Linked DNA regions of Homo sapiens. The protein of the gene in region 1 purifies or fractionates together with the protein of each later gene. This does not show direct contact. Each region holds a gene or a part of one and is shown on either strand. Other genes may lie near its edges.

Region 1 (3,500 bases):
TCAAGAGATCCTCTTGTCTCAGCCTTCTAAGTAGCTGGGACTACAGGCTTGTGCCACCACACTTAGCTAATTTTTCTATTTTTTGTAGAAACAGGGTCCCACTATGTTGTCCAGGCTGGTCTCAAACTCCTGGGCCCAAGGAATCCTCCCACCTTAGCCTCCTGAGGAGCTGGGACTACAGGTGTGCACCACCATGCCTGGCTAATTTATTTTTTTTTTTATAGAGACAGAGTCTCACTATGTTGTCCAGGCTGGTCTTGAACTGCAGGGCTCAAGTGATCCTCCCACCTCGGCCTTTCAAAGAGCTGGGATTACCACCATGAGCCACCATACCCAGTTTACAATTCAGTTTTAAATATTATATATGCCAAGGTGGGAGGATCGCTTGAGCCCAGGAGTTTGAGACCAGCCTGGCCAACATAGCAAGACCCTGTCTCTATGAAAAAAAAAAAATAGAAAAAAGAAGAAAAAGTACAAAAATTAGCTGGGCATGTTGGCATGTGCCTGTGGTCCCAAGTACTTGGGAGTCCGAGGTGGGAGAACCAATTGAGCCCAGGAGTTTGAGGCTACAGTGAGCTATGATCACGCCACTGTGCTCCAGCCTGGGAGACAGAGCAAGTAGCCTCTAAAAAGAAAAATAAATAAATAAAAATAAATATTGGCTGGGCACGGTGGCTCACACCTGTAATCCCAGCACTTTGGGAGGCCAAGGCAGATGGATCACCTGAAGTCGGGAGTTTGAGACCAGCCTGGCCAACATGGTGAAACCCTGTCTCTACTAAAAATATAAAAATTAGCTGGGTGTGGTAGCGCACACCTGTAATCCCAGCTACTCGGGAGGCTGAGGCAGGAGAATCGCTTGAACCTGGGAATCAGAGGTTGCAGTGAGCTGAGCTCGCGCCACTGCACTCCAGCCTGGCCACAGAGCAAGGCTTTGTCTCAAAAAAAAAAACTAAATAAAAATAAATATCATGTATGCATATATAGTATATATTATGTAATTTACAAAGTACACAAGGACAACAGAGAAAACTGTCCTTCTCACTCCCATCCCCAGCACCCCGTTCTCCTCTGGAAGGAACCAGAGTCCCCAGTTCCTTGCGTGCCCTCCGGTATTTTACACGTGCACAAATATGTAGAAATCCTCTTTTACCTCACTTCAAATTATTCATAAGTAGCAGCACAGCAGACACACCAGATAAACTCTGCTCCACCTGGGCACACAGAGCTTCCTCAGCGGGGTTTTTTCAGTGGTTGCATTGAACAGATGCACCTCCATTTAGTTAATCAGTATCCTTTTGCTGGGCTCCTTGGTGGCTTCCAATCTTTTGCTATGGCAAGCAACGTGGCAAGGAATTGCCTTCTACTTGTGCCATTTGTCACCTGTGCCAATATTAAAAGCCACAAATTCTAGAAGCGAATTGCTCAGCGAGGCAGGGGAAAGCACAGGCTTTGGAATCACGCAGACCCAAGTTCAAATCCCAGTCTGCCTGTTTCAGTGCTGCTGTATTGAGCTGTATTTATCTGTAACTTTTTGTTTGTTTGTTTGTTTTTTGAGACGGAGTCTCACTCTGTTGCCCAGGCTGGAATGCAGTGGCGCGATCTCGGCTCACTGCAACCTCTGCCTCCCGGGTTCAAGCAATCCTCCTGCCTCAGCCTCCCGAGTAGCCGGGATTACAGGCACCTGCCACAATATCTGACTTATTTTTTATTTTTATTATTTTTTTCGTAGAGATGGTTTTCTCCATGTTGGCCAGGCTGGTCTTGAACTCCTAACCTCAAAAGACCCGCCCACCTTGGCCTCCCAAAGTGCTGGGATTACAGGTGTGAGTCACTGCACCCAGCCTATCTGTGACATATTGGTAATATAAGTTCAGGAGAGGGAGAGAGAAAGAGGCAGGGATTGAGACAGAGCAGGAGAGGAGGAGAGAAAATTTATATGGCTCAGGCAGTCTGATCCCTTCTGTTCCCCCACAGGGAGACCCACAGCAGAGACATGACTCACAGGTGGCATCAGGTCCCTTTGAGTCTCTCTGGTGGGAGAATCTCAACCCACAGAGTAGGATTCCAGTGTTCACATGCATTTTTGGTACTATGAGGCCTCTGAATGTCAACCCTGTCACCTGAGACTCTGTTGAAAAACCAGCCGCGGCCGGGCGCGGTGGCTCACGCCAGTAATCCCAGCACTTTGGGAGGCCGAGGCAGGCAGATCACAAGATCAGGAGATCGAGACCATCCTGGCTAACACGGTGAAACCCCGTCTCTACTAAAAATACAAAAAAATTAGCCGGGCGTGGTGGCGGGTGCCTGTAGGCCCAGCTACTTGGGAGGCTGAGGCAGGAGAACGGCATGAACCCAGGAGGTGGAACTTGCAGTGAGCCGAGATCGCGCCACTGCACTCGAGCCTGGGTGACAGAGTGAGACTCCATCTCAAAAAAAAAAAAAAAAAAGAAAAAGAAAAGAAAAACCAGCCTCCTGTTCTGGTGCTGCAGGGAAACAGGCCTGGCCACAGCCAAGGGTGCAGATTTTCAGGAAGCATTTTTAAAAATATATATATATATATATACACATATATATATATACAGAGAGAGAGAAGCCACTGAGGCCCACAGAATTTGCATCATTTTATTCCTTGTCCAAGGTCACAGGACAAGCAGAGTCCCACCCACCTGAAAGGATTCAGTTCTAAGACAGCCTTTAGGGCAAAAAGTCACAAAGTTGATCTATCTATCTATCTATCTATCTATCTATCTATCTATCTATCTATCTACGTGTTTGCACCCTAATCACTGGCAGTAAATGCACTTTTTTTCTTTTCTTTTCTTTTTTTTGAGACAGGGTCTTGTTCTGTCACCCAGGCTGGAGTAGGTGTAAAATTGGAGAATCCATATTTCTTTCCTTGTTTTCAGATTTAATGCTTTCCTTTTTCCAGCAGGTCTCCTTCGTCCATCCATCCATCATCCATCTACCCACCCACCCACCAATCCATCCATCCATTCATCCAACCATCCATCCATCCATCATCCATCCACCCACCCACCCACCAATCCATCCATCCATTCATCCAACCATCCATCCATCCATCATCCATCCACCCACCCACCCACCAATCCATCCATCCATTCATCCAACCATCCATCCATCCATCATCCATCTACCCACCCACCCACCAATCCATCCATCCATTCATCCAACCATCCATCCATCCATCATCCATCCACCCACCCACCCACCAATCCATCCATCCATTCATCCAACCATCCATCCATCCATCATCCATCCACCCATCTATCTGTCCATCCACTCTACCCTACCATCCATCCACCAGTCCATCCATCTATCCACCAATTCATCCATCCATCCACCCATTCGCCCATCCATCCATCCACCCACCCATCCATCCATCCGTCCATCCACCCATTCATCCATTCATCCATTCACCCATCCATCCATCCACATATCTTCATCTGTGTTGTGTGTCTGTGTATCCATGTTTCTAA
Region 2 (3,500 bases), on another chromosome or scaffold:
GCTACCATTGACTTTCTTAACAGAATTAGAAAAAAAAATACTTTAAATTTCATATGGAAACAAAAAAGAGCCTATATAGCCAGACAATCCTAAGCTAAAAGAACACAGTTGGAGGCATCAAACTGCCTGGCTTCAAACTATACTACAAGGCTACAGTAACCAAAACAGCAAGGTACTGGTACCAAAACAGATATATAGACCAATGGAACAGAACAGAAGCCTCAGAAATAACACCACACATCTACAACCATCTGATCTTTGACAAACCTGACAAAAACAAGCAATGAAGAAAGGATTCCCTATTTAATAAATGGTGTTGGGAAAACTGGCTAGCCATATGCAGAAAACTGAAACTGGACCCCCTCCTTACACCTTATACAAAAATCAAATAAAGATGGATTAAACACTTAAACGTAAGACCCAAAACCATAAAAACCCTAGAATAAAACCTAGGCAATACCATTTAGGACACAGGCATGGGCAAAGACTTCACGACTAAAACACCAAAAGCAATGGCAACAAAGCCAAAATTGACAAATGGGATCTAGTTAAACTAAAGAGCTTCTGCACAGCAAAAGAAACTATCATCAGAGTGAACAGGCAACCTACAGCATGGGAGAAAATTTCTGCAATCTATCCATCTGAGAAAGGGCTAATATCCAGAATCTACAAGGAAGTTAAACAAATTTACAAGAAAAAAACAAACAACCCCATCAAAAAGTGGGCGAAGGATACAAACAGATCCTTCTCAAAAGAAGACATTTATGCAGCCAACAAACATATGAAAAAAAGCTCATCATCACGGGTCATTAGAGAAATGCAAATCAAAACCACAATGAGATACCATTTCATGCTAGTTAGAATGGTGATCATTAAAAAGTCAGGAAACAACAGGTGCTGGAGAGGATGTGGAGAAACAGGAACACTTTTACACTGTTGGTGGGAGTGTAAATTAGTTCCACCATTGTGGAAGACAGTGTGGTGATTCCTTAAGGATCTAGAACCAGAAATACCATTTGACCCAGCAATCCCATTACTGGGTATATACCCAAAGAATTATAAATCATTCTGCTATAAAGACACATGCACACGTTTGTGTATTGCAGCACTATACACAATAGCAGAGACTTGGAACCAACCGAAATGCCCATCAGTGATAGACTGGAAATACTATCACCATGAAATACTAGGCAGCCATAAAAAAGGATGAGTTCATGTCCTTTTCAGGAACATGGATGAAGCTGGAAACCATCATTTTCAGCAAACTAACACAGGAACAGAAAACCAAACACTGCATGTTCTTACTCATAAGTGGGAGTTGAACAATGAGAACACATAGACACAGGGGAGGGGAATATCACAAACCAGGACCTGCTGGGGAGTGGGGGACTGGGGGAGGGATAGCATTAGGAGAAATACCTAATGTAGATGATGGATTGAGGGTGCAGCAAACCACCATGGCACATGTATACCTATGTAACAAACCCACATGTTCTGCACATGTATCCCAGAACTTAAAGTATAATTAAAAAAAAACAAACAACAACAACAACAAAAACACTGAAAACCAATAAGCTAAGCATTCAGAAACTTGGGGGGAAAAACAATAAATCCAAACACATGAAAAGGAAGGAAATAGTCAAGAGCAGAAATCAACAAAATAGACAACAATGACAAATTAACAAAATATAAGCTAGTTCTTTGAAAAAATTAATAAAACAACCAAACTTCTAACTGGATACTAATGGAGGTTAGTAGGGTACCAATTATTACTCTAAAAATTGATAAAGAGTAAGCATTTATCCTACTTTTCCAATTTGAACTATCTATCAGAATAACTAAATAGACCTAACGGATGGAGTAAAGCAATTCTACAAAAAAGAATCAAACTTAAAAATACAGAAGAAATGAGAGAATTCGAGAATAACCATGTTGTAACCCATAATTAAGTAACTGATTCAAGAAATAAATAAATGGTAAAACCAAAGAGTAAGTTTGTTGGACACAGTATCGGTGGACATTAACTGAACCCATTAAAAGTGAAGCAATCCTATCTTACATATCCACTGATGTGATGCAATGGAATGTACATGGCATCACTAAAGTCTTCTTGCACCACTCCCCGCAACAGGAAAAAAAAAAAAAAAAAACTAAATCTAATTGAGCCTATAGATCAAACACTGTGACTACCAAAAATACAAATGTGAGGATTAAAATACAAGACACTACAAGGAAACCACAACAAAATCCAGAATGTGAACAAATGATCCAGTTTCCTCAACAAGTCAATGGCAAGGAGAAAAAAATGGTGAGGAGGGATCTTCCAGATCAGCAGTTGACAAATGATGGCCTGTGGACAAAAGTATACCTGTTTTTGTATGCCCCTCATACTAAGAAAGGTTTTACATTTTTAAAGGGTTTTTTAGAAAGAAGAATAAGCAACAGAGACTTAGCATGGTATACAAAGCCTAAAATATTTACTACCTAACACTTTACAGAAAAAAATGTGTCAACCCTTATTCTAGATTACAAGACATTTAGAAAAGCTTGAGATGTAGGAACCAAATAGGAGTACAACTTGTTTAGATACCAATTAGAACAACTGCACTATATATTTTTACCCAATAGGGAAAATTTTTATTATGGAGTAGTTATTAGATGATATTAACCAATTATTGTTAATTTTGTAATATTATAGTTTTGTATGGAAGTGATTTTTTTTTTATTTCTATCTTTTATAGAGACATGGTCTTGCACTGTCACCCAGGCTGGAGTGTCGGGGCACAATCATATTTCACTGTAGCCTTGAACTCTTGGCTCCAGGAATCCTCCCACCTCAGCCTCCCGAGTTAGCTAGGACCATAGGCTCGCTACTTTTTTTTCTTTTTTTGGTACAGACAGGGTCTTTCTGGCCAGGTGCATAATTTCAGCAATTTGGGAGGCCGAGGTGGGCAGATCACTTGAGGTCAGGAGTTTGAGACCAGCCTGGCCAACATGGCAAAACCCCATGTTGGGAGTCTCCACTAAAAACACAAAAATTAGCCAGGCATGATGGTGGATGCCTGTAATCCCAGCTACCTGGGAGGATGAGGCACAAGAATTCCTTGAACTGAAGAAGTGGAGATTGCAATGAGCCAAGATCACGCCACTGCACTCCAGCCTAGGTGACAAAGTGAGACTCCATCTCAAAAAAAAGAAAGAGAGAGAGACAGTGTTTTTCTATGTTGCCCAGGTTCATCTCCAACTCCTGGCCTCAAGTGATCCTCCCACCTCCACCTCCCAGAGAGCAAGAATTACAGGCATGGGCCACCTCACCCACTCTATAAGACATTTCTTAAAAAGATAAGGCAAAAAAAAAAATATGGCAAAATATGGATAGTTGTTAAAGTTGAGTAATGGGTGCTTGCAAGTTTTTTACACTCTCTTATGTATGCTTGGAAATTTTCAATATCAAAAGTTAATTAAAAAGACAAACCTCTAGCAAGACAGATCAAGGATAC

What was found. Proteins that work in one complex are often made in the same cells at the same time.
Region 2: the proteins of HNF1A (region 1) and SNX14 purify together in Homo sapiens (affinity purification with mass spectrometry, with the first as the bait; one study listed by BioGRID). This does not show direct contact.

What each region holds. Positions count from the first base shown.
Region 1 is NC_000012.12:120,985,043-120,988,542, forward strand, and holds part of HNF1A (hepatocyte nuclear factor 1-alpha), read left to right. Parts: intron 1-3,500. UniProt on the Homo sapiens protein: Transcriptional activator that regulates the tissue specific expression of multiple genes, especially in pancreatic islet cells and in liver. Binds to the inverted palindrome 5'-GTTAATNATTAAC-3'.
Region 2 is NC_000006.12:85,583,859-85,587,358, forward strand, and holds part of SNX14 (sorting nexin-14), read right to left. Parts: intron 1-3,500. UniProt on the Homo sapiens protein: Plays a role in maintaining normal neuronal excitability and synaptic transmission. May be involved in several stages of intracellular trafficking. Required for autophagosome clearance, possibly by mediating the fusion of lysosomes with autophagosomes.